Regions from separate parts of the Homo sapiens genome. Here region 1 is linked to region 2. Evidence: fine-mapped expression QTL. A gene starts in region 2. The other region holds a variant in brackets. All regions are shown on one strand. Distances are from middle to middle. Region 1 holds the start of LOC105375740 (a long non-coding RNA gene). Region 2 holds the start of TATDN1 (TatD DNase domain containing 1).

Region 1 (11,375 bases), 32 kb before region 2:
GAGACTGCCCCAAATTCAGTCACCAGCCACAAGTGGGGTCCTCAGATTCCTCACACTTCTGCCCAGCCGACCACAAATTTGGGGTTTTCTATGACCCCCTCGCCCATCAAGTTTAATAATTCTCTAGAAGGACTTGCAGAACACAGGAAAGCACCATATTTACAATGACTGGCTTCTTATAAAGAATGCAGATTGTAGCCTTGTTTACTACATTAAAGGACTCTGCTGAAGCCCTTGAAGCCTTTTTGGCTTCTAGATAATTCCACCGTGACAGTGTGTATTTGGATTAGACTGTGGCTTAACTGGACATCCAGTTAGCAAGTGGTGGTTGTTGTCTAGGTGACAGATGATGGTGGCCTGGGCTCAGGGAAGTGACCACAGAGATAGAGAGGAAGACAGGTGGATTCAAGAGCTACTTAGGAGAAATGCAAATGAAAGAAGGAAGAGTTGAAGGCAATGGTAAATTTCTGGATCCGGTAGTCAGGTTGGCAGATGGTGGAGTATTTCTTTAACCACCAAGGAAGAAGCATTTTGGAGCCGTGAGGATGCTCTGTTGGAGACACTCTGGATGGTGAGCTGCAGGTTGGCCTGGGACGTTTTCTAGTTGTTCTCTGAAATGTCTCTTTTTATCCTTTGCTTTGATAAACAACTGATTGCCCAGGGACCAGTGAAGAATCTTGATGATAAAACTCCTACTTGTAGTGAAAGAATCATGGGATCTTTTGCATTTTCTTACATCAAAAACGACCTTGAACTGAAAGCTCTCTTTAAAAAACAAACAAACAAACAACAACAACAAAAAACCCACCCTACCCTGCATACTATCACCTGCTAAACTACCCAGTGTCAGAAGGACAACTTCAGAGATGCTGTGGTGGCAGCTGATAGTGCCTGACATTTAGTGAGTGCTCAGCACGTGCCGGGCGTTGTTCTGAATGCTTCATGTGGATTAGTTCATTTCCCCTTCCAGCAGCCCTGTGAGCTCAATACTGTTATTATTTACATCCCACAGGTAAAGGGAAACTGGGGCACAGTAGGTTGAAAAATAACGGAAATTGAGTTTGTTTGAAAAATTTTAAGGCTAAAAGCCTTCAGTCTTATCTAATCACATCTATCTTTTGATTTCGGGTTGGATTTTTCTTTTGGGAATCAGTCAAAACCCACTGTGGGTTATTAAGAGTAGAAGATGACTTATAAAGGGATAATGAGGATAGCCTCCTTTTGCTGGGAAGACAGAATTTTTCATTCCAAATTCTAATCTCCAGTGTCACCTTGCATGTCCATTTCTGGATTTATATTTTGTATTTTAGTATTTATATCCCATGTTTCATTTGACTCTGGGATACAAGCAATTGTCAGATGCACCATTATTTTCCAGACCACTAAGAAAGGAAAAAAAAAACCTACCGATTAAACTGTGACACACCATTGATTGTAAGACACACCCTGATTGGTGAGGTGTAAAAATGGGGGAAAGTGGCTCTCTTAGAATGAAATATCTTAGAATGAATTTGTGTGAGTCAGGGGCAGGTGAAAGTCATTTTGCAGGATTCTAATGGCTTCTCCATACACCTCTCTCCGAAGAAAGAAAGGACTTGGGGTGTTTTGCTGACTCCTGGCAGCATTCTTGGCCCAATGTATTCTGGGTTTGCTCTTCCCCGTTGGAGAGCCCTTTGCCAGAGAACAGCCACTGGCTTGTTGAGCCAGGAAGCTTACCATGTGAGTGCAGCTTGTGTCTGAAGAGGCTGGGCCAGTACAGATAATACGAATCACATTTCACTGGCTTTTTGATCGGCTGTTTAGCTCCTGGCAGCTTGTTCCCAGCATTCATGTTTGCTGTGAGTAGGAAACACAAAGAACCTCGTCTTCAGAACGAGAAAGACTTGGGGCTGGATTCTAGCTGTGCCCGTGGCTGGCTTAGTGCTCATGATTGTGGCCCTGTGCAGACCACTTTGCCTCCCTCAGTCTCAGTTTCCCCATCTATCAAAACGGATATTCATTCCTGCCTTGAATGTGTTATGTAATAATGATTAAGGAAAATAAAATGCAAGTGTTGAAGTTGATACAGGATCTTTATTTCATTCCAGAAAACTCTGTAAAGTTTCCTCATTTAAAAATTCCTTCCTTCTGTGGCCGGGTGTGGTGGCTCACACTGTGATCCCAGCAGTTTGGGAGGCCGAGGCAGGCAGATCACTTAAGGTCAGGAGTTCGAGACCAGCCTGGCCAACATAGTAAAACCCTGTCTCTACAAAAAATACAAAAATTAGTCGGACATACTGTCTTGAACCCAGGAGGCAGAGGTTTCAGTGAGCTGAGATTGTGCCGCTGCACTCCAGCCTAGGCAACAGAGCGAGACTCTGTCTCAAAAAAAAAAATTCCTTCCTTCTTTAGGGGTGCTGCCTTGGCCCATGACATGGTGCATTCACAATGCTTTGCCCCAGGAACATTTTCTGCAAAGAGAATCATCATGATATCCCCTGGGGTGGGGGGATAAGGGGCTCCTGGCTGCTGTTCATCAGAATTCCCCAGCGTGAATACACAAGACCTGGAAACTAGCACCAGGAAAAAAACAAAACTCAAGACTGAAGATGCCTAAGATATTACAGAAGAAAGCCGAAAGCAATTCTTTGCTCAAGAATTTTGTCTGGGAAGCCCATCGAAGGCACCCCCTCCCTCCTCCTCTTGGCTGCTTGATGGTCCTGGAATTGGGTGGTTCTGAAGTATTAGGCCATTTAAGGGAATGATGGTTGAGGCCAGTGAGCAAACTTGGTCACGTTGTATCAATGCTTGATTCATTTACAAATATTTGAACACCTGCCGCCTTCCAGGCAAGTGTGCTGACTGAGGAGATACAGTACTGAGCAAAAGCATTCATGGGTTCTGCCCCCGTGGGACTGCCCCCTGACTAGGGGAGACTGACGTCAATCAAATAACTAGAGAAATAAAGATGAAATTCAAACCGGGGGTAGTGCTGTGAATAAGTATAAGGGATTTCAGAGATCAAGTAAGAGAAGCCTAATCTGGGGAGAAAGTTCACAGCAGGATTCCCTGAAGGATCGAGAATTAAGCGAGACCTGTAGGATAAAAGGTGTTAGGAATGTAGCAGAGGGACAGCAGAGTGAAGATGGGAAGGGGCCCAGGCCCTGGAGGATGAGAGGGAGAGGAGAGAGGGAGAGAATGGCCCACAAAGGCTGAGGCTATGAGGTAGACAGGCAATGACCTTTCATGCCTTGCAGGGCAGGCCATGTTAAGGATATTGTTCTTTTCTTGCGAGCAATGGGAGCTGTTGAAAAGCAGTGAGAATATTTGCATTTTGAAAGTAATCCACAGCCGGGTGTGGTGGCTCATGCCTGTAATCCCAGCACTTTGGGAGGCCGAGGCAGGTGGATCACTTGAGGTCAGGGGTTCAAGACCAGCCTGGCCAACATGGTGAAATCCTGTCTCTACTAAAAATACAAAAATTAGCTGGGCATGGTGGTACATGCCTGTAATCCCAGCTACTTGGGTGGCTAAGGCAAGAGAATCTCTTGAACCTGGCAGGCGGAGGTTGCAGTGAGCTGAGATCACGCCACTGCACTCCATCCAGCCTGGGCAACAGAGCGAGACTCTGTCTCAAAAAAAAAAAAAAAAAGAAAAGAAAAGAAAGAAAGTAGCCCAGGGCTGCTCTGGGCGAGCTAGTCCAAGTGCAGTCTGGGGTGAGACATTAGGGGCTGTTGGCATCTGTTCAGGTGAGAGATCGTGATGGCCCAGTGAGGGTAGAGGTAGCAGAGGTGAGACGAGGATGGAGTCAAGTCCGTGGGAGCTGGAATAGCCAGGACCAGCGCTCAAGGAGTCAGTGGTGACTCTCCTAACACTGCCGATGGGAGTGAAGAGAATGGGCTTTTGTATATATTAAATCAGTACCAACACAACTCTCTGAATTTGTGGACCTCAAAAGATCACTCTATCTTAAAACCAGTATATCCAACTGGGACATGAAATAATTTCTTTCACAGTTTTTTTTTATAAATATAATTACATGTTGTATTAGTGAATTTAATAAATAAACATTGTAGTTTTAGCTTATCATCTATCCTGAATGGAAATGTCTTGACTATAATTATAGCAATCTTTACAGAGTATACTTATTTTAGAATGCTACAATTTGAGAGTCCTTTAATTATAATACACATTTAAAATAACTTTGCTATAATCATAGGATAACTTAAATTTATATTTTCCAAATTAGATAACACTGGGTTCAGTGGCCTTTTTTTCTTTCCTATGTAGATACAGTTTTTAAAGTCAGCATTATTAATTATGGATAGACATGTGCCTTATAACTTGTGAAAGGAAGTAAAGATACATTTTTCCAATTTCTGACAATCACAGGCTGTTATTTTTTAATTTTATTTTATCTATTTATTTATTTTAGATGGAGTCTTGCTCTGTCGCCCAGGCTGGAGTGCAGTGGCATGATCTCAGCTCACTGCAACCTCCCCCTCCCAGGTTCAAGCAATTCTTCTGCCTCAGCCTCCCCAGTGGCTGGGACTACAGGCGTGTGCCACCACACCCAGCTAATTTTTGTACTTTTAGTAGAGACGGGGTTTCACCATATTGGCCAGGCTGGTCTTGAACTCCTGACCTCATGATCCGCCCGCCGCGGCCTCCCAAAGTGCTGGGATTAGAAGCATGAGCCACCGTTCCCGGCCTCATAGGCTGTTATTTTTTTAAATTGCTACCATAATCAAAGCCCACCGAGCAAGTTTGGTCAAACACAATGTGTCTCAATCTGGTGTCTCCCGACTTCTGTTCACCATCCTACACGAGAGTTGAGAACATTCTGAGGTGGTCTGCAGCCCTCTGTGTTTTGTTATTAGAACATCATAGAATAGATCGAGAGACTAGAAGTAGCCCTCTAGACCAGCCCTGAGTCATGTGACCCAACAAGGCCCACAATTGGCCATGCTGTTTGGCTGCTTGCAGAGGAAAAGCAAGGGTTTACAGCTTTCCAGAGCTTCCCTGCTGGTGGACTCGTATCATACACACATTAAGTATATCTGGATTAATTTTGCACTAGCCAGCATTTTAAAATAGAAGAGAAAACTCACAGTTTTCATAGTGCTGGTGGCACCCAGCCTTCCCTCTGTAAGCCGTTGGCCACAGGTGGTGGGTCTCTGTGAACAGAGCACCTGCCCTGAGGCAGATTCCAGGAGAGAATGGGAGAATGTTTTTACAGGTTTCTTGTCTACTAAAAACACATGAAACCAGTGGCTCAGGTGGCCAGATTAATGTATGGTGATGATTACTCCTACATCCTTGAGGAAGAAATTGAAGGCATGGTAAAGAATTATTCTGAGGGGTGGAGGTAGTGACTACATGGAAGAATGGGTGAGTGGGTCACCTTGAAAATATGCTGAAACACCCAGGCGCTGTGGCTCATGTCTGTAATCCCAGCACTTTGGGAGGCTGAGGTGGGAGGATCACTTGAGGCCAGGAGTTCAAGACCGTCTGGCCAATAAAGCAAGACCCAATCTTTATAAAAAAAAATTGAAAAACTAGCTGGGCATGGTGGTGCACGCTGGTAGTCCCAGCTGCTTAAGAGGCTGAGGCTGCAATGAGCTATGATCATTCCACTGCACTCCAGCCTGAGTGACAGAGCAAGACTCTGTCTCCAAAAAGGAGAAAATTATGCAGAGACTTCTCAAGCAGCAAATTTCTTATATATAGTAGTTCCCCCTTCTCCTCAGGGGATATGTTCCAAGACCCCCCGTGGATGCCTAAAACTGCAGATAGTACCCGAACCTTACATATACTGTGGTTTTTCCCATGCATACATGTCTATGGTAAAGTTTAATACATAATTTAGGCACAGTAAGAGATTAACAACAATAATAATAGAACAATTATAACAATATACTGTAATAAAAGTCATGCGAATGTAGTCTCTTTCTCTCTTTCAAAATACCGTATTTTACCACACCATGGGTAGCTGAAACTTTGGAAAGCAAAACCACAGAGGAGGGGCCAGTGTAGTATAATCGTTGGGTAGCACCCCTCCGTGGACTTAGATACATACTATCTACACATTTGTACTCACTTGACTGATGAGAGTTATATACACAAAGCTGTCCATACTGTATTTACTGGCCATCTAAGGCATTTTCAAGGGTGATCTTTGACTATAATTTTCTCATAATGTGCTAACTTAGAACTTATTCCCTGTCTGAGAAGTGACTTTTCCTTACTAAAATCTGACTACCTTTTCTATTGGGATGTGCTTTAAGCCTGATTGCCTCTTGCTCCAAATTAAACTTTCTCCTCTGCTTATGAGTGAAAAATACAGAATATGTTCCTACATCCAAGGCAATTTTCCCTGACCCTTTCTTTCTTCAGACCAAATGGTTCATTGCATTTAATGTTCTCTACATCACTAAGAGGGATAGATGGAAACTGCAGGGCCCTTCCTGCGAGGCGGTGGGGCAGAGAATAGGTTCAGTGTTAAGGGAATTAGGCAGTGTGGCTCAACCCTGCCTCTGTACCATTCTTTCTGTGACCTTAGGTGAGTCCCTTGACTTCTCTAGGACTTGGTCTCCATTGAAACATGAGCAGATTGGCCCAATTGGATAACCCCTTCCAGCTCTAACATTTTGTGTTGAAACTATTAAACAGACATTTATCAAGCACCTGCTGTATACACACATGACATTGTACTAGGGGCTGTGCTGGGAAAGACCAAAATCCTGCCCTGAAGAAGTTTAGGAAGTATCTCTCTGGTTTGAGTGATAGGTAAGGCCCCTGCATAGGCAGCCCAAGGTGGAAGCTCATGAGCTGGTGTCCCCTGCTGTCACCCTGCTGTCCCCACCTACAGATCAGATTTGTAGTAGCTGCTCCTTTGGACACAGTGCCTCTTGGTCCATGTTTATCTTTTAGGGCAGCAGGCTTCTTTTGCAAGAGGCCATGGTCTGGGGGCCATACTCTGTGTCACACTACTCTGCCATTGTAGGGAGAACTGGTACAGGCAATATGGTAAATAAATGGATTTGGCTGTGTTCTAATAAAACTTTATTTGCAAAGATGGTTTGCTGACCATGTGTTAGTCATTCAAAAGACTAACACCCTGTCTTAAACTCCAGAAGTGGTTGCCTGCACCTAACTGGGGTCTGTGGACCTGGCCAGATAATTCCTAAACATGGGCCAGGCTCCGCATAGACCCCACTTTCAGTTTTTCATCATCAGAGACCTGTCTGGAGGTCTTGTTATTACTGGGCTTGTTCTACAGCAAGAGCATTCAAGACTCTCCACTAGAGAGTCAAAGGAACTGCCAAGGATTCCCATGGGCCCCCAGAGCCAGGAGAGCGGATGCTTGCCACCTTTGTCTTTAGGAGCAGATCCTTCTATCCAGACAGAGGCTCTTTGATTGAGATTGACCCAACAAAGCCAGCCCGTGCCCGTTTTTGGAAACACCCA[C/T]AGGCTCTTACCTTGTTTCCACATCTCTTAGCCTCTTCAGAATGTTCTGCAAGGAAAGAATGCTGTCTGGCTCTGTGTTCCAGGGTTGTGTTGGCAGAAGAGTTGGTGGGGGTTGTGCAGTGTGAGAAGGCAAGTCATGAAGAGTTGCCCCAGGACATTTTCCTTGTCAGGAATAAGCCAGGCTAAATGTGCCCTTTGGGCATTGAAAATTGGAAATGGCTGGTCCTAGAAAAACAGCTGCCTTAAATCCTTTTGGGGCATGAATAAATACTTTTTTTACATCCTGGAAAATTGTGGTTTTGACTCCAGCAAGGACCCCAGGGAGGAGGGGCACTTGTTCCAGAAGCTGGTATTTCAGCAAGCCGTGCTTGGGTCTCTGTTTTTTGCAGGGAGAGGTGATATCCAGCCTCAGTTGGACAGTGCTCTCCAAGATGTCAATGATAAGTATCTCTTATTGGAAGAAACAGAAAAGCAGGCTGTCCGGAAGGCTTTGATTGAAGAACGTGGCCGATTCTGTACCTTCATCTCTATGCTGCGGCCAGTGATTGTAAGTTAATGGAAAACTCCAGAAGGTTTAAACTGCTGGTGTAGAGGTGGCTTCCTTCTAATTTTATCCATCCACTGTTGAGTCATGGAGAATCTACTGTCAGGAATCATGATGGTGGTATCTCCTGTACAGACCAGCGATTCAGTGCAAGTTGATGGCCATGTAGCTCACTCCTCATTCACTGTTCTAGTACCACTTGTTCCCCGTTACTTTGTCTCACCAAGTCAAGAAGGCCCAGCAGGGTGGTTCTCAAAGTGAGGTCCCCAGGTCAGCAGCATCACGTGGGAACTGGCTAGAAATGCAAGTTCTTGGGCCCAACCCAGACCCACCAAGTCCAAACCTCTGGGGGTGGGGACCCAGTCGTCTGTGTTTTAAAGGAGCACTCCAGGTGGTTTTGAGACTCACTGTTGTAGCCGAGTACTAAGGGGTGACCATGAGATGAATATCCAAGAGCCTCAATGAATCAATTTAGACTTAATTTTTAAGGAAATCATTTGCATGCCGTAATTGAGAACTTGCACTGCAGGCGTTCTGGAAGCTGATTCGAAGGTACCAGCTCATTTCCCTTAGCCCTAGCAAAATGTCTGAATTTGAGTTGTTCCCCTGAGCACAGAACTTTTCCATGGATCGTTCTAGCCCGGCCCGTGGTCCCAACTTGGCACTTCGATAAAGCACATGGGATGTTTCTTCCATGGTCCCCAGCTCCTGTCTTACTTGTCTTTTACTAAGTTGCTGGAAAAGCACAAGAAAGAAGGGGAAAAGTTAGCTTCTGTTGAACACACAGGCACTGTCACAAAGATCTGGACCAAAATATATCCAAGTCGTGTCATCCATTGAAGCTAAGCAACTTCAGAAAAGGGCCACAGTATGAAGAGGGCTGTGCTGCAGGATCCCGTGGGAACACACAGTCAGACCATCTGAGCAGGCCTGGCAGTCCCCCAGGCCCTGGGAGGGAGGCCTGTGTGTTCCCCACTGTCCCCTGTGCACAGGTCACTCCTCCATTATGGCAGATTTCTTTTTCCATCTCATTTCCCAAAAGAAAAGGCATGTAGTGCCTTCAGCAAAGATTTGCCAGTCCCAACAGTGCCTTTTCTGAAAAACTGAAAGGGTTATACAGAGACCCTAATGAAAACAATTGGACTAGAGCGATGAAGGGAATCACTCATGATAATAACATTTCATGAATGACTTTTCCTTCAGGAAGAAGAAATCTCAATGCTAGGGGAAATAACCCACCTTCAGACCATCTCGGAAGATCTAAAAAGCCTGACCATGGACCCTCACAAACTGCCCTCCTCAAGTGAACAGGTAGGCTTCAGGGGTTAAGCACTTACAGGATCAAACCAAAGAGGTAAAAGCTCAAGGCCCTGAGTGTTCCTGTGGCATGTGTCACGTCTTAAATTGTAGTCATATTCACCACGTCCTTCATGATGTAATATATGAAATCACCACAGCGAGCTGTTACATAGAACCTATTGTGTGTCAGGCACTGTCCCAAGCTCTTTACATAGCCTGACTTCCTCCATTCATCTTCATGATTATGCTTGTTTTATAGAGAATGATGCAGAGGCACTGAGAGATGGAGTCACTTAGCCAGGTTCAGCTAGCTAGCAGGTAGTGGAACTGATATTTGAACCAAGTTGGTCAGGTTCCAGATCCCATGCACTTAATTGCTGTGTTCATCTGCCCTCTAGAAGTCAACCCTCCTAAGAACACGTCGCTGGTGTGTTTTGATTGACACTGTCAACCATTCTCCATTTCTCCCATTCTAATTGAGCAATGCATGGAGAGCTCTCTCATCTTATGAAAAAGATGACATTTTTATGCTTTATTCATTTAATTCACATCACACGCACACTATGGGAAGAGACATATTTGGGGGAACTGATGAATCACATGCTGGCTTTTGTGCTTGGTAACAATCTTTTCGTCTCCTTGGAGAGCTGGCTCAGAGGGCAAATTTGGGAGCTCATGTTTTCTATTCTATCAAATTATATTTATTAGACCAGAGCATGCATGCATTCACTTGACAAATAAACATTTACTGAGTGCTTCTTATGTGAATGAAAGGTGGACCTTATACTCATGTGGTCCTTTGTCAAGCAACGGAGACAGATATAGAAATAATGGTGAAAGAATTGGCTTGTTCTTGATTCTGTCAGGCTTTAAAATTTCTAGTGCTGGTCAAATAGGGCAGAAATGACCACTGAATATCAAGTGGTTAAAATGCGCTACCAACAAGTCTGGGAACCATGATTAACTTTATGGCATTACAAGAGGAAAATCCTGTAAATTCTAGCCTTGGGTATAAATGGCTGTTATAAATTATTAATTGGTCACTGTATTTCTCCCTCTCTCGACTGATATTTCATGATTTTCCTTTTCCCTTCCTTTCCTTCTCCCTATTAATTATAGTTTTACTTTCTCAGTAAAAGGATTATGATATTGATGGATTTGGTACTGTGGCTCTTCAATTTAAAAAAAATTTTTTTAACATGTTTTGCTTTCATTCCCACCCCCACGATGGCAGCGTTTTGATGCTTTGGTGGATGTTAAGCTTTGATGGCTAACGCTTCCCCTCTCAGCACCTCATTCACCCAGCTGGCTCTGTCCCCTTAGGTGATTCTGGACTTGAAAGGTTCTGATTACAGCTGGTCGTATCAGACGCCACCCTCTTCCCCCAGCACCACCATGTCCAGAAAGTCCAGTGTCTGCAGGTGAGTGAAGCCGGGGTCCACTCTTGCTTTCAGGACGGGTCATTTTTCTTTATGCTAATGTGAGCAATGGAGCCAGTCCTTATCTCTTAGAATGGCTCATTCTCAAACAGGAAATGGGATGATGAGCTGAAAGAATGGTAATAATTTTGGTCTTGCTCTTTAGTCTCTGGATTAATTTTGGATCAGAAAGAAAACCCCATTAGCCCTTGACTTGTGGATGTAGCTTATTCTCTCTCACTTGTATGTTGTAGGGATTTTCCTATTCTATGAGATCACATTTGATTTTCCTGTTTAGCAGAGTGAAAACCTTCTAAGGCCTAAAAAATGGTGAACCTGGGTTGATTTTTACACAGGCTGATCTCACTGTTGCCAGAACAAACGAAGGAAGTAACAATGGCTTATGCCCTCATTTCACCCCATATTTTTGTTTCAGGGTTTCATAAAGTAAATAGAGTTCTTGCTCTGTCAGTCACTGCTACTACTACCACCACTACCACGACCACACCTGTATTAATTAGTACTGTTCCCTATTGGAACAAAATCTGTTGGAATAGTTCTGCCATCTGCAAAACTGTTGTCTAGCAATTTTCTGTTAGAAGTCAGTTCTTGGCTTGCCGAGTAGGAAAGTTTCTTTTCCTCTCCTTGAAAGATGGAAGCATGAT
Region 2 (13,246 bases):
GTCCCAGCCCTTTGAAGGCTGAGGCAGGGAGATTCTATGAGGGTAGGAGTTCCAGACCAGCCTGGACAACATAGCAAGATTCCATCTCTACAAAAAATAAAATAAATTAGCTAGGTGTGGTGTTGTGCCTCTGTTTTCTTAGCTACTTGGTTGGCTAGGACAGGAGGATTGCTTGAGCCCAGGGGATCCAGGCTGCAGTGAGCTATGATCATGCTATTGCACTCCAGCCTGGGCAACAGAGGGAGACCATCTCCCAAACAAAAACAAAAGAAATACGTTATTGATAAAAACTGCCAACAATCATCTGAGCCATCAGAAAACCAATCTTTTTACTGGTGGAGAGTATTATATCAATGTTGATGGCTGGTGACTAATCAGGGTGATGATTGCCAAAGGCTGGAGTGGCTTTGGCAATTTCCTAAAATAACGAGGTTTGCGACATCAACTGACTCTTCCTTACACCAAACACTTCTATAGCATGTGATGCCATTTGATAGCATTTTACCCACAGAAGAACTTCTTGCAAAATTGGAGTCAATCCTCTCAAACCCTGCTACTGCTTAATCAACTAAGTTGATGTGCTATGCGAAGTCCTTTGTTATCATCAATGTTCACAAAAACTTCACCAGGAGACTCCATCTCAAGAAACCACTTTCGTATTCATCCATAAGAAGCAACTCTTCATCTGCTCAAGATTTATCATGAGATTACAGCAATTCAGTCATATTCTCAGGATCAGCTTCTATTCTGGCTCTCTTGCTATTTCCACAACTTCTGCAGTTACTTCTTCTGCTGAAGTCTTGAGCCCTTCAAAATCACCCACAAGGGTTGGAATCAACTTCTTCCAACCCCGTTAAAGCTGATATTTTGATCTCTTCCCATGAATCATAAATATCCTCAATGGCATTTAGAATGGTGAATTCTTTCCAGAAAATTTTACTTTGCCCAAATCCATCAGAGGAATCACTATCTATGGCAACTATAACTATGCAAAATATATTTCTTAAATAATAAAACTTGCAAGTGGAAATTACTCCTTGATCCATGGGCTGCAGAATGGATGTTGTGTTAGCAGACATGGTAGCAGGTCTCAACAATGGGCTTAAAAGATTCAGTAAACCATGTTGTATACAGATTTGCTGTAATTCAGGCTTTGTTATTCCATTTCTAGGGCACAGGCAGAGTAGGTTTAGCATAATTCTTAAGGGCCTCAGGATTTTCAGAATGGCAAATGAACAATGGCTTCAACTTAAAACCACCAACTGCATTAGTCCCTAACAAGAGAGTCAGCCTATCCTTGAAGTTTTGAAGCCAAGCATTGATTTCTCTCAAGGTATGAAAGTTCTACATGGTATCTTATTCCAAAAAAAGGCTACTTCATCTCCACTGAAAATCTGTTGTTAAGTATAGCCACCTTCATCAACTATCTTAGCCAGATTTTGTGTAATAATTTGCTGCAGCTTTTCCATCAGCACTTGTTGCTTCACCTTGCACATCTGTGTTACAGAGATGGCTTTTTTCCTTAAACCTCATGGACCAACCTCTATTAGCTTCCAACTTTTTTTCTGCAGCTTCCTCATCTCTCTCAGCCTTCATAGAAATGAAGAGTTAAAGACTTGCTTTGGATTAGGCTTTGGCTTAAGGGAATGTCGTGGCTGGTTTGATCTTTTGTCCCAACCACTAAAACTTTCTCCATATCAGCAATAAGACAGTTTCACTTATCATTTGTGTGTTTAGTGGAGCAGCACTTTTAATTTCCTTAAAAAAACCTTTAATTTCCTTTGCATTCACAACTTGGCTAACCAGCGGAAAAGGCCTTGCTTTCTACCCACCTTGGCTTTCAACATGCCTTCCTCACTAAGCTTAATCATTTCTAGCTTTTGATTTAAAGGAAGAGACGTGTAACGGATTTAAAGTGAGAGACATGTAACTCTTCCTTTCACTTGAACACTTAGAGGCTATGGTATGGTCGTTAATTGTCCTAATTTCACTGTTGCTGCGTCTTAGGGAATAGGGAACCCTGAGGAGAGGGATAGAGGCGGAGGAACTATTGGTCGGTGAAACAGTCAGCACACGCACATTTATCGATTAAGTCTGCTGTCTTATGTGGGCATGGTTTTTTTGTGCCCCAAAACAATGACAATAGTAACATCAAAGGTGACTGATCACAGTTCACCACAACTGTGTGTAGATAGAGTAATAATAAAAAAAAGTTTGAAATATTGCAAGAATTGCCAAACTGAGAAACAGAGACAGGGAGTGAGCACATGCTGTTGGAAAAATGGTGCCCACAGACTTGCTCAGCACGGGGTTGCCACAAACTTTCAATCTGTGAAAATACAATATCTGCCAAGCACAATAAAACAAAATGCAATAAAATGAGGTAGGCCTGCATCTGACAACTGTCAGGAAATAAGTCTCCTAGCTACCCCTTGAAGGGCAAGTGATTTCTGAGGCTGAGGTGTGGGACTGAAGAAACAAAGTCTATTTCTCAGAAGGCAGTCATCATAATTCTCACCTACCTTGTAGCAATCGTATCTCTCATAGGAGGTGCCCCCAGGAGAGTCAGGGAAGATGTATGGCTGTGGATGCTGACGGTACCAGAATTCTTCCTCGGCCTCCTTCAGCAGCTGGGTGGCCTTCGCCATATCCTTTTCATTCTTATGTTCTTCAAACCGGGCTCTCATCAAACAAGCAAAGTATCGGTATTTGTCTCTTAAACCAAAATGATTTTGAAGATTAGAAATGTTACCTACTCACGTGGTCAGTGTTGCTGTCTGACAGGAGGCTGCACTTCTGATACCTTCTGGATGGGCAGTGGACCTACCCCAACCCTCCCAATGGAGCAGCCGTATCATCATGGCTGCTTCCTCTACAGCCCACCAAACAGCAGCAGCAAAAAAATACTGTATTAAATATATACCCTAACCATTTTTCTCCTCTTACATCCAACAATGGAATGAGGATTTAAACAAAAAAAAAAAAAAAAAAAAAGAAAAGAGCATTCGCAAGAGAAAAGCTATAACCTCTGCAGGATCATTCAACATTCATTGAATGACAACTTCCATTTCCTTCTATCTTGTGCTAGTCACTATGCTAAATTCTGGAGATACAAAGATGAATAAGAAAGGTGTTACTTGGCAGAAACAGTATTGCTTAGCTCATACAGAGCTAGGTTTGTATCCTGACTCTGACACTAGCTGCATAAACTTAGGCAAGTTAAAGTCAAGTTCTAAAGAAACTGGGCAAAGATCAGTTAGGAGGTTTTGACAATAATCTAGGACACAGCTGACGAGGGCCTGAAAGTACGGAGCTGTGATGGTGACAGGAGACAGGGGAGACATTGAGACTTCCAAGTTATGAGAATAGGCTCTCCAGTCAGACTGTATGGGCCTGAATCTTAGCTCTGCCACTACTAGCTGTGTAACTTGGGGTAAGTTACTGTCTTCTGGTCAGGTGCGGTGGCTCACACCTGTAATCCCAGCACGTTGGGAGGCCAAGGCGTGTGGATCACCTGAGGTCTGGAGTTCAAGACAAGCCTGATCAACATGGAGAAACCCCGTCTCTACTAAAAATACAAAAATGAGGCCGGGCATGGTGGCTCACGCCTGTAATCCCAGCACTTTGGGAGGCCAAGGCAGGGGGATCATCTGAGGTGAGGAGTTCTACACCAGCCTGGCCAACATGGTGAAATCCCGTCTCAGCTAAAAATACAAAAACTAGCCGGGCGTGGTGGCAGGCACCTGTAATCCCAGCTACTCTGGGGGCCAAGGCAGGAGAATAGCTTGAACCCGGGAGGCAGAGGTTGCAGTGAGTCGAGATTGTGCCATTTGCACTCCAGCCTGGGGGACAAGAGCGAGACTTCATCTCAAAAAAAAACAACAACAACAACAACAAAAAGGCCAGGCACGGTGGCTCACGCCTGTAATCCCAGCACTTTGGGAGGCTGAGGTGGAGGTCACCTGAGGTCAGGAGTTCAAGACCAGCCTGGCCAACATGGCAAAACCCCGTCTCTACTAAAAATACAAAAATTAGCCAGGCGTGGTGGCGCATGCCTGTAATCCCAGCTACTCGGGAGACTGAGGCAGGAGAATTGCTTGAACCCGGGAGACGGAACTTGCGGTGAGCCAAGATCGCGCCACTGCACTCCAGCCTGGGCAACATAAGCGAAACTCCGTCTAACAAAAAAACAAACAAAAAAAGTCTTCTAGGCCACGGGTTCCTCCTCTGTAAAACAGTGGCAATAACAGTGTGTATATCTTAAGGTTGTCATAAACAGTCAATAAGATAAACACACTTTAAAAAGTGCCTGGTACATCCCAAGTGTTAAATAATGTCAGTTACTAATATCATACTGGAAAGAGAATTTATAAAAACCAGTGTCTAATTATACATGGTGTATGAGTATGTGTGTTATTGGCAAAGGAATAAGGAGCAAATACTTGAGAACAATTCTGAGACTTAAAGCTCAGTAACTGAATTACTAATAATACCATTAGCGGAGGCAGGGAATTTGGGAAAAGAGTCAGAATGGGGAGTGACAGGAAAACAAGTTTGATTTCAAAGAATTTAGATAAATGGAGATTGAGAGAACGGTTGGTGATCTTTTCAATTTTTTTTTTATTATTATTTTTTGAGACAAAGTTTCACTCTTGTCGCCCAGGCTGGAGTGCAATGGGGCTATCTCGGCTCACTGCAGCCTCTGCCTCCCAGGTTCAAGCGGTTCTTCTGCCTCAGCCTCATGAGTAGCTGGGATTACAGGCACCCACCACCACGCCTGGCTAATTTTTGTATTTTTAGTAGAGACGCGGTTTCACATGTAGGCCAGGCTGTTGAACTCCTGGCCTCAGGTGATCCACTCACCTCAGCCTCCCAAAGTACTGGGATTATAGGCGTGAGCCATCATGCCCAGCCAACAGTCGTGATCTAACAAGCAATTCGAACTACAGCTCTAGAGACAAATGAGCGCAGGTGGTGACAGCACTAAATGAGGCTGCCCGAGTACATACAACAACACAGTATGCCTAGGATGGAACCACAGAGAACAGCACAATGAGGGCAAATGGAGGAAGAAATTAAGGCAAGGATTGAGAAAGAATGTCAGATCTAAAAAATGCTGAGCCATAACTGTCATAGTAGCTAGTTTATATCATTTTCCTCTAGAACTATGGACTTTAGTATTCCCAGCTATAGTTCAGTATTGCTTGAATTCTTTTTTTCATGTTTAACTTTTTTTGACACATAATTATTGTACCTATTTATGGGGTACATGTGATATTTTAATACATCCATATAATGTATAATGATCAAATCAGGGTAATTTGGATATTCATCACCTCAAACATTTACCATTTGTGTTGGGATACCTGAATCCCTGATGGCTCAACTTCCTTCATCATCGATTTGTTTACATGTCCATTTTCCCCACTAATCCGTGAGCTGCTGCTGCTCAAAAATGGATTTACTAACATTTATATATTTAGCATAGAGCATAGAATCTGAATTGCAAATTCTGTCAAATCAATAAATAAATAAGGAAAACTCAAGGAAGAAACTAACAATCCCATCACATTGTACTTGGCCATCTTCCTGCCAAATCAAGAGAAGTATGTCAGTGATTTTCTAATAGTCACATATATGCAATCTGGGCTTCGAGGGTACCCTCTGTAATTCTTCCAGGCCTACTCCATTTTCCATAGAGTTTTTTTCCCAGAAGGCCTTCTTATAAAACTACGTTTGGAGAGTCGTAAGACTGGAGTGGAGGCGAGGCACTCACACATCTTGGGTTGTTAGCCCACCCTGCAATGAATTTAGGTGATTAAAATCTACACATTTTAACACTATGTTCTCAGACTAGTCTCAGACGGATAGAGGTCGAAAGAGAATTATGTAAGAGGTGAAAAAGATGTAAAGGTAATGAAAAGGACTAGATGAAGCTAAAAAGAGAAAAGCTAATGGGAGGGGTGGGAGAATGATGATGCTTTGGAGAAAGACCTAAATTTTAACCCTGGCTCAGACACTTAGAAACTCTATCACCTTGCGCAAGTTACCAGCTGTGCTCATCTTCTTATCTGTAAAATAAGCTTAAGATAATTCCTAACTCCTAGAGTTTTGCAGACTGAAGAAAATAATGCATAGTTTATTGCTGTTAATATTGGAAAGGAGAAGATCGTGAAGAAAACGATTGAGCGAGCGCTGGACCCATGACAATTACAATTTTAGGCACTTTCCTTTATTTCACTTAATTTTCCTGCGACCCTCTGCGCTGGTCGTGCGTCCGTTTTACTAAACAAAAAGCTGACGCCCAGACCCGACAAGCAACTCTACAAGGTCTCCCGGCCATAAGTGGCGAAGCCTGGATTTGAACCCGGGTCTACCATAGGATTCTGTGAAGCGAGAGGCCACCTTCCAATTCCGTTCCCGAAGTCCTTGAACCTCCAGGTACCCAGGGGCCTCTCCACCTCCATGGGGCCCCGAGGGTCACCTCCCCGAGTCCTGGGTCCCCATCCCTTACCTCTGGACGCACCACGACTCGAGGTGGCGTAGCGCCCGCTTATAAAGCCGCAACACCTTTTGCTGATGGGTCAGGTAGGGTCCCGACGCCAAGAACGCCATTACGGCGCTGACCTTCCCCGGCCGCGCGGAGAGCCGGGAAACTGCACGCCTGCTGCGGGTGACTGAGCGGGGCCAGCCGGAAGGGCGGAGTTGCCGGCGGCCACTTCCGCTTCCGCTGGGGAGGTCCTCCATGCGCAGTCATGAGTCGCTTCAAGTTTATCGGTAAGAGGAGCGTTTTCCACGCCCTTGGGTCTTTCTGACTTGTCCCGGGCGTCGGTCACCAAGGTCACAGGACCCAGGAATTGCGCCCTCCGGCATTGTAAGGGTTGAAAGGGCCGCTCAGTGGAGGAGGGCGCGGGGAGGTTTCTGGGTGCTGGTAATGCTCTGGTTCTTGATCTAGGTTCTGGATTCACGAGGGTGTATTTATTTGTAAAAATTAACAAGCCGTACAGTTATGATTTTTGTGCTGTTTTCAACATCTGTAATGTATTCAGTTTTTTAAGAAGAAAACTCCAAAAAGGCCAATCACTATGTTTCCATTCATCCCACGTGCACCTCCCGGCCCTTCCCCTCTGCCTTGGCGGAGAGGCTGACCGCTTCTGGGGACCAATTCACTCAAGCATTCATTCGTTCATATCATAGTTAGTGAGCGCCTCAAGTGGGCCTGGCACTGGCCTAGGAACACAGGGCACAAAGCTCCCAGTTGTACTGTCATCACCATCTGGTGGAGAAACTAGAAAACACAAGTAATGGGGAGAAAAACAAACTGTACTTGGCAAGTACAATGATCCAGTCGGCATCAGTAGAACGAGAGGGAGAATGCTGCGGGATTTAAATGGGCATGATCCTCGTTTTGTGGGGTTTCCAGCTACCTGAAGGTGGGAAATGACAGTGATCACACCTCTGCTTTAGCAAGGTAATCCTGATAGCTATTATGTAGGTTTTGTGGGAAATAGGGAGAGGTAGGGAAGCATTTCAAGAGCTTAAACTAGGGTAATGGAAAAGAGAGAGAAATGGAAGAGATGTGTGCAGCATTTAGCAGCTGAGTGTTCATGGCCGGTAGTAGAGAGTGAACAAAGATGACTCAGGGTTTGGAAAAGTACTTAAATATGAAATGGAAGCATGACTAGTTTGGCGGTGAAGAGAGGTACCCAGGTCCATTTGGATTAGGTTAAGTTTGAGATAATTATAGGACATCCAGGTAGAGATATCTGGGCAATTGGGAATGTGGTCTGGCAATCAAGAGATTAGGATTATACATTTAGATCTGAGAGTTATTTAAGCAGTATTTTTTTTTTTCAAAGACGTTGTGCTAAGTCCTGTGGAACTGTAAAATCTAGTGGTGCAGTTTTCAGACTGGAGACCTAAGACCTATGTACTGTACAGTCAAAAGCAAATGCAGGGGAGAATATGTTAAGTGCCAGGAAAAAGGTTTTGAAATTGCTGTGGGAAAGCCTGGAGTAGGGGTTTGGGGAGGGGTTGTCAAATAAGACATTGCCGTGTCTTAGCCTTTCCATCCTAACCTTTGATATAATTGATGAGGGAGATGGAATAAAGAGCCATGAAGTACTCCGTAAAGAAAGGCCACATAACTTTTTAAAAGTGTGTTTATGTTATACAACCAAATTCCTGCCTCAAGTTAATGTCTTAAATCCATCCTCCATGTAGACTCCATTTTGGTGTATCTAAAAATCAAATCAGCTAAATGTTTCTTTTGCTTCAAATCTTTCATTTACGCTCCTCAGGATAGCCTAAATGCTTACACACCATACAAAGCCCTTCTGTGGTCCAGTCCTGCCCACTTTTCTAGCCCATCCCTGGGCTGCTCTATAAACACTTGTGCATGCTGTTTGTTACCTCTGACAAGGTTTTAGAGTGGCAGTTTGGGGCCAAAATATTCCTCTGCCTACCAACTACCCTGTTGCCTGTCTGCCTACTCACTCCTTAAAACTTATACCACATTATTTATAATTAAATATGAGTATGCCTTTCCCACTAGATCAAACTCTTAAGGCAGATACTGGTATGGTATTTATATTTTTTTCCTAGGGGCGTAGTACAATGACTGTTTGGGAAAGTATGAATGAGTGGCTTTAGTGCTAAGGTGATAAGAAAATTAGTAAAGGGATTAGCATCAGATAAAATAAGCAAGAAAAGACTTCTTAAAGAAGGTGACTTTATTGGAATAAATAATTGAAATAAATTTTTTTCTGTATGGTTTCCTTTAGCCCCACTCTCCTAAAGTAACCATATTAAAAGTTTGAAGTATAGCCTTCCCTAATTTTTTAATAGATTGTTATACAGATTCATAAAAATACAACATATCAAGGTTTTTTTTTTTCCTTTTGAAACAGAAATGAGATCATATTATGCATTCTATCCTTGGTATATGACTTACTCTGATATTTAATCTTTCAGTTTGTGTCATTTAAAAAATTCTGCCCATGAATCGCTAGACTAATTTCTTAGCCTAATAATGAGTTCTGAACAATATTTTGAAAAACATCATATTAAATCCCTGGAACAAGCTTCACATGGGACAATTGCATGAAAAATTGAACCCATTTTATGAAAATTACCTTAGATTTTGGTTTAAGACAGCTGACCATTGTAATTCTTTCTACATTTCTCTCTTTTCTACTTGCATAACAAGTGGCTGCCCCTTAGAACTATACCCCAACAGTGGGGGTTTTTGTTTGTTTTGAGACAGGGTCTTGCTCTGTCACCTAGGCTGGAGTACAGTGGCTTAGATCATGGCTCCAGCATTGACCTCCTAGGCTCAAGTGATCTTCCTGCCTCATCCTCCCAAGTAGCTGAGACTAGAGGTGCTCACCACCATACCAGGCTAATTTTTTTTTGTAGACCACTGTGTCCTGCTATGTTGCTCAGGCTGGTCTTGAATTGCTGGCCTTAAGCAGTCCTTCCACCTCCGCCTCCCAAAGTTCTGGGATTACACGTGGAGCCACTGGCCAGCATGAGAATTTCTTTAGCCCAGCTTATACTCTCTTTTCTGTCTCCACAAGTGGAATTCTATTCCCTGGGTGTTATTTACAAACTCTTCCACTCTCAAAAATACTTCTACCTGTAACTATTATATGCCAGAATCTCTACTGCATTGATCTTAGACTACATAGTACACCAAAAAATGAGAAATATCTGTGCAAGAAGAAAATGCAAAATACAAACAACAGTGAAAATAAAAACATCATATTCCATTCCTGATATAGTTTAGATATTTGTCCCCTCCAAATCTCATGTTAAAATTTGCTCTCCAATGTTGAGGTGGTCCAGTGGGAGGTGTTTGGGTCACTTCCCAACATCCATCTCATGGGGGTGGATCCCTCATGAAAGGCTTGATGGCCTCCCTGTGGTAATGAGTTCACACTGGCTCCCCTTCCCTTTCCACCAGGATTGGAAGCTTACTGAGATCCTCCCAAAAGCAGATGTTGGTGTCATGCATCTTGTACAACCTGCAGAACCATGAGCCAAATACACCTCTTTTCTTTATAAATCACCCAGTCTCAGGTATTCCTTTATAGCAATGCAAAAGCAGATTAATACAGTTCCTCCAAATCACACATAACACCACCATGTCTATCTTTCCAGATCTTCTGTAGGCATACCAAACAAAATAAGATCATACTGAGGCTACTCTTTTGTGCTCTGCTTTTTTCAATCACAGTCTCCACCTTTCCATTTCAGGAAATGTTCATCTTAACTAGTACCAAAATCATACTCAAATTTTTCCTGTTGTTCCAAAAATGTCCCTTGGTGGTCATGTCCAAAATGGTATCCCATTTAGAGCCACACATTTGGTTGTTCCTTAAATTTTTGAATCAAGTGCAGAGGTTTGCAAACTTTTTCCTTAAAGGGCCATATAGTAAATATTTTAGACTTTGAGGGCCACGTGATCTCTATTGCAGCTATTCAACTCTGCCCTTTTGTGTACTGTGATGTAATAGTAAATACGTGTGTGTTCTCTGCTCCCATTTCTTTGTGCACAACTCCTGAAACCCTTGGAATCTCCTAAGTGCTAAGTGTCTTTTTGTATGCTGCTAAGATGACTGATGGCTGGGGGCTCCTGGATAGCCTCAGGATGGGGGTTTGCCTAGGAAAACCCATCATGTGATTAGAGAGTTGGAAGTTTCAGTCCCTCCCACCCACTCCCACTTCTGGGGAAGGGGAGAGAAACTGAAGGTTGAGTTGTTCACTAATGGCCAGTGATTTAATCAATCATACCTACATGGTGAAGCCTCTATAAAAACCCATACATGTCTCTATGTGTCTCTTCCACCTGGCCGTTTTTGAATGGCATCTTTTTACAATGAATGGGTAATAAGTAAAGTGCTTTCCTGAGTTCCGTGAGCTGCTCTAGCAAATGATCAAACCTGAGAAGGGGGTTGTGGGAACCTCTTATTGTAGCCAAGTTAGACAAGTTGTGGGTAACCTGGGAACCTACTGCTTGTAATTGGTATCTGAAATGGGGAGAGTCTTGTGGGACTGAGCCCTTGACCTCTGCGGTCTGATGTTATATCCAGGTAGATAGTGTGAGAATTGAGTTAAATTATAGGTCACCCAGCTGGTGTCAGAGAATTGGTTGTTGGGAGAGGAAACCCCACACATACCTGACGTCAGAAGTGAATCCTCACGCCTGTAATCCAAGCACTTTGGGAGGCCAAGGTGGGAGGACTGCTTGAGCCCGGGAGTTCAAGACCAGCCTGGGCAACAAAGTGAGACCCCATCTCTACTTAAAACAAACAAACAAAAAATTCAGAGTATTGTGAGTATGAGAATACTGTAGGAGAAAGCAGTTTGCATTTTTTCCTATCTCACACCTTGTCATTCAAAAGCAGGTGATAGACAGTATGTAAATAGGTGTGGCTATGTTCCAGTAAAACTTACGGTCACTGAAACTTGAAGTTCTTATAATTTTGATGTGTCACAAAATATTCTTTTGATTTTCTTCAACTATTTAAAAATGTAAAGTCATTCTTAGCTTAGAGGCAAACAAAAGTAGGCAGTGGCTTGTGGGCCTTAGTTTACCAATCCCTTGCTCTAGCGCATTTCTTTTTTTTTTTTTTTTTTTTTTTTTTTTTTTTTTGAGACGGAGTCTCGCTCTGTTGCCCAGGCTGGAGTGTAGTGGTGCAGTCTGGGCTCACTGCAAGCTCCGCCTCCCAGGTTCACGCCATTCTCCTGCCTCAGCCTCCCGAGTAGCTGGGACTACAGGCGCCCACTACCACGCCCGGCTAATTTTTTGTATTTTTAGTAGAGACGGGGTTTCACTGTGTTAGCCAGGATGGTCTCGATCTCCTGACCTCGTGATCCTCCTGCCTCAGCCTCCCAAAGTGCTGGGATTATAGGCGTGAGCCATCGCGCCCTGCCACACATTTCTTTTTTTAATGTCACTGACTTACCAAAGCAGCTGTGCTGGTTGTGCCTGTGAAATAAAAATAAAATTCTAAGCCCCCTAAACTGGCTGAACAGAACCCCCCTCGACCAAGTAGACCCCAGAAAAACATGAAAAACTAAGATTCCCAAACATGACAAGATGAGGGGTTGGTCCTGGTCTCCTTCCTTACTAACCAATACCAGACTTTTTTCCTACAAGTTGAACAGAAACCAGCCCTGGAAAAACAAAGATTGGAAGACTTGCTCCTCTGCTGACTTCAGCCAACTGCCTGACATTGGGACCAGCTCCCCTCCTTTTTTGCAGTTTCACCATGACAGCTGACCAGTTTCACAAGGCATTCCTTCCTGTACTGAGGGCAGTTGCCACCCCCTCAGGCCTCATCAAGGCTACCAAAAAATTACTCCTGGGATCCCCTCTCGTTGTATATGTTTCTCATTCAATTTAGGCCCTTTGCACCTGTCCCCTCACTCAGCATCTTTAAGCCAGTTGATTGACCTCCTATGAGATACTTTTCTCCTCTTCTAACCTAACCATAATTTACTGTAACCTCCTTAATGTAGCTACCATTTTGCGTTTTTTTTTTTTGAGACAGAGTCTCACTCTGTCGCCCAGGCTGTAGTGCAGTGGCGCCATCTTGGCTCACTGCAAGCTCCACCTCCCGGATTCACACCATTCTCCTGCCTCAGCCTCCTGAGTAGCTGGGACTACAGGCGCCTGCCACCACGCCCGGCTAATGTTTTGTATTTTTAGTAGAGACGGGGTTTTACCGTGTTAGCCAGGACGGTCTCGATCTCCTGACCTCGTCATCTGCCCACCTCGGCCTCCTAAAGTGCTGGGATTACAGGCATGAGCCACTACACCTGGCCCCGTTTTGCCTTTAATAAGAGATTAACGCACCCAAAGACTGTGTTGTCTTTACAGACACTTTTCTCTCACCTCATATAGACTTAAGGGAGACCCCCTTACCCACTAATGGATCCTTTCTCAAAAATTCTGCTGGCTTCCATTATGCAGCCTATGTGGTGGTCTCTGTGATGGGAATCATTGAATCAGGCCCCCAGCCAACTGCCCGATCTGCCCAACGAGCAGAATTAGCATCCCCTCACTTGGGCCTGCCTACTGGCCTGGGGTGAAACGGTTAATATTTATGCAGACAGCACGTATGTCTTTGGAGTTGCCCATGATTTTGGCATGCTCTAGAAACAAAGAGGATTTTTTACTTCCTCTGGACAACCTATTAAGAACAAAGACTAGGCCAGGTGCAGTGGCTCACGCCTGTAA

The links. PIP is the estimated chance that this variant, and not a neighbour inherited with it, causes the effect.
Region 1: its variant is the best candidate, but not a certain one, in a credible set for the expression of TATDN1 in whole blood (INTERVAL, PIP 0.84).

What each region holds. Positions count from the first base shown.
Region 1 is chr8:124,565,000-124,576,374 of GRCh38, reverse strand. MTSS1 (MTSS I-BAR domain containing 1) reads left to right here. Exons shown (of 14, transcript NM_014751.6): 7 at 7,839-7,996; 8 at 9,197-9,304; 9 at 10,616-10,713. LOC105375740 (a long non-coding RNA gene) reads right to left here and starts at 7,492. Exons shown (of 2, transcript XR_928608.3): 1 at 7,461-7,492. The variant C/T (reference allele first, on the strand shown) is at 7,450.
Region 2 is chr8:124,532,556-124,545,801 of GRCh38, reverse strand. TATDN1 (TatD DNase domain containing 1) reads left to right here and starts at 6,717. Exons shown (of 12, transcript NM_032026.4): 1 at 6,717-6,777. The coding sequence starts at 6,756. It overlaps NDUFB9 (NADH:ubiquinone oxidoreductase subunit B9), which reads right to left and starts at 6,679. Exons shown (of 4, transcript NM_005005.3): 1 at 6,515-6,679; 2 at 2,523-2,715. The coding sequence starts at 6,615. RefSeq lists an enhancer at 6,787-6,856.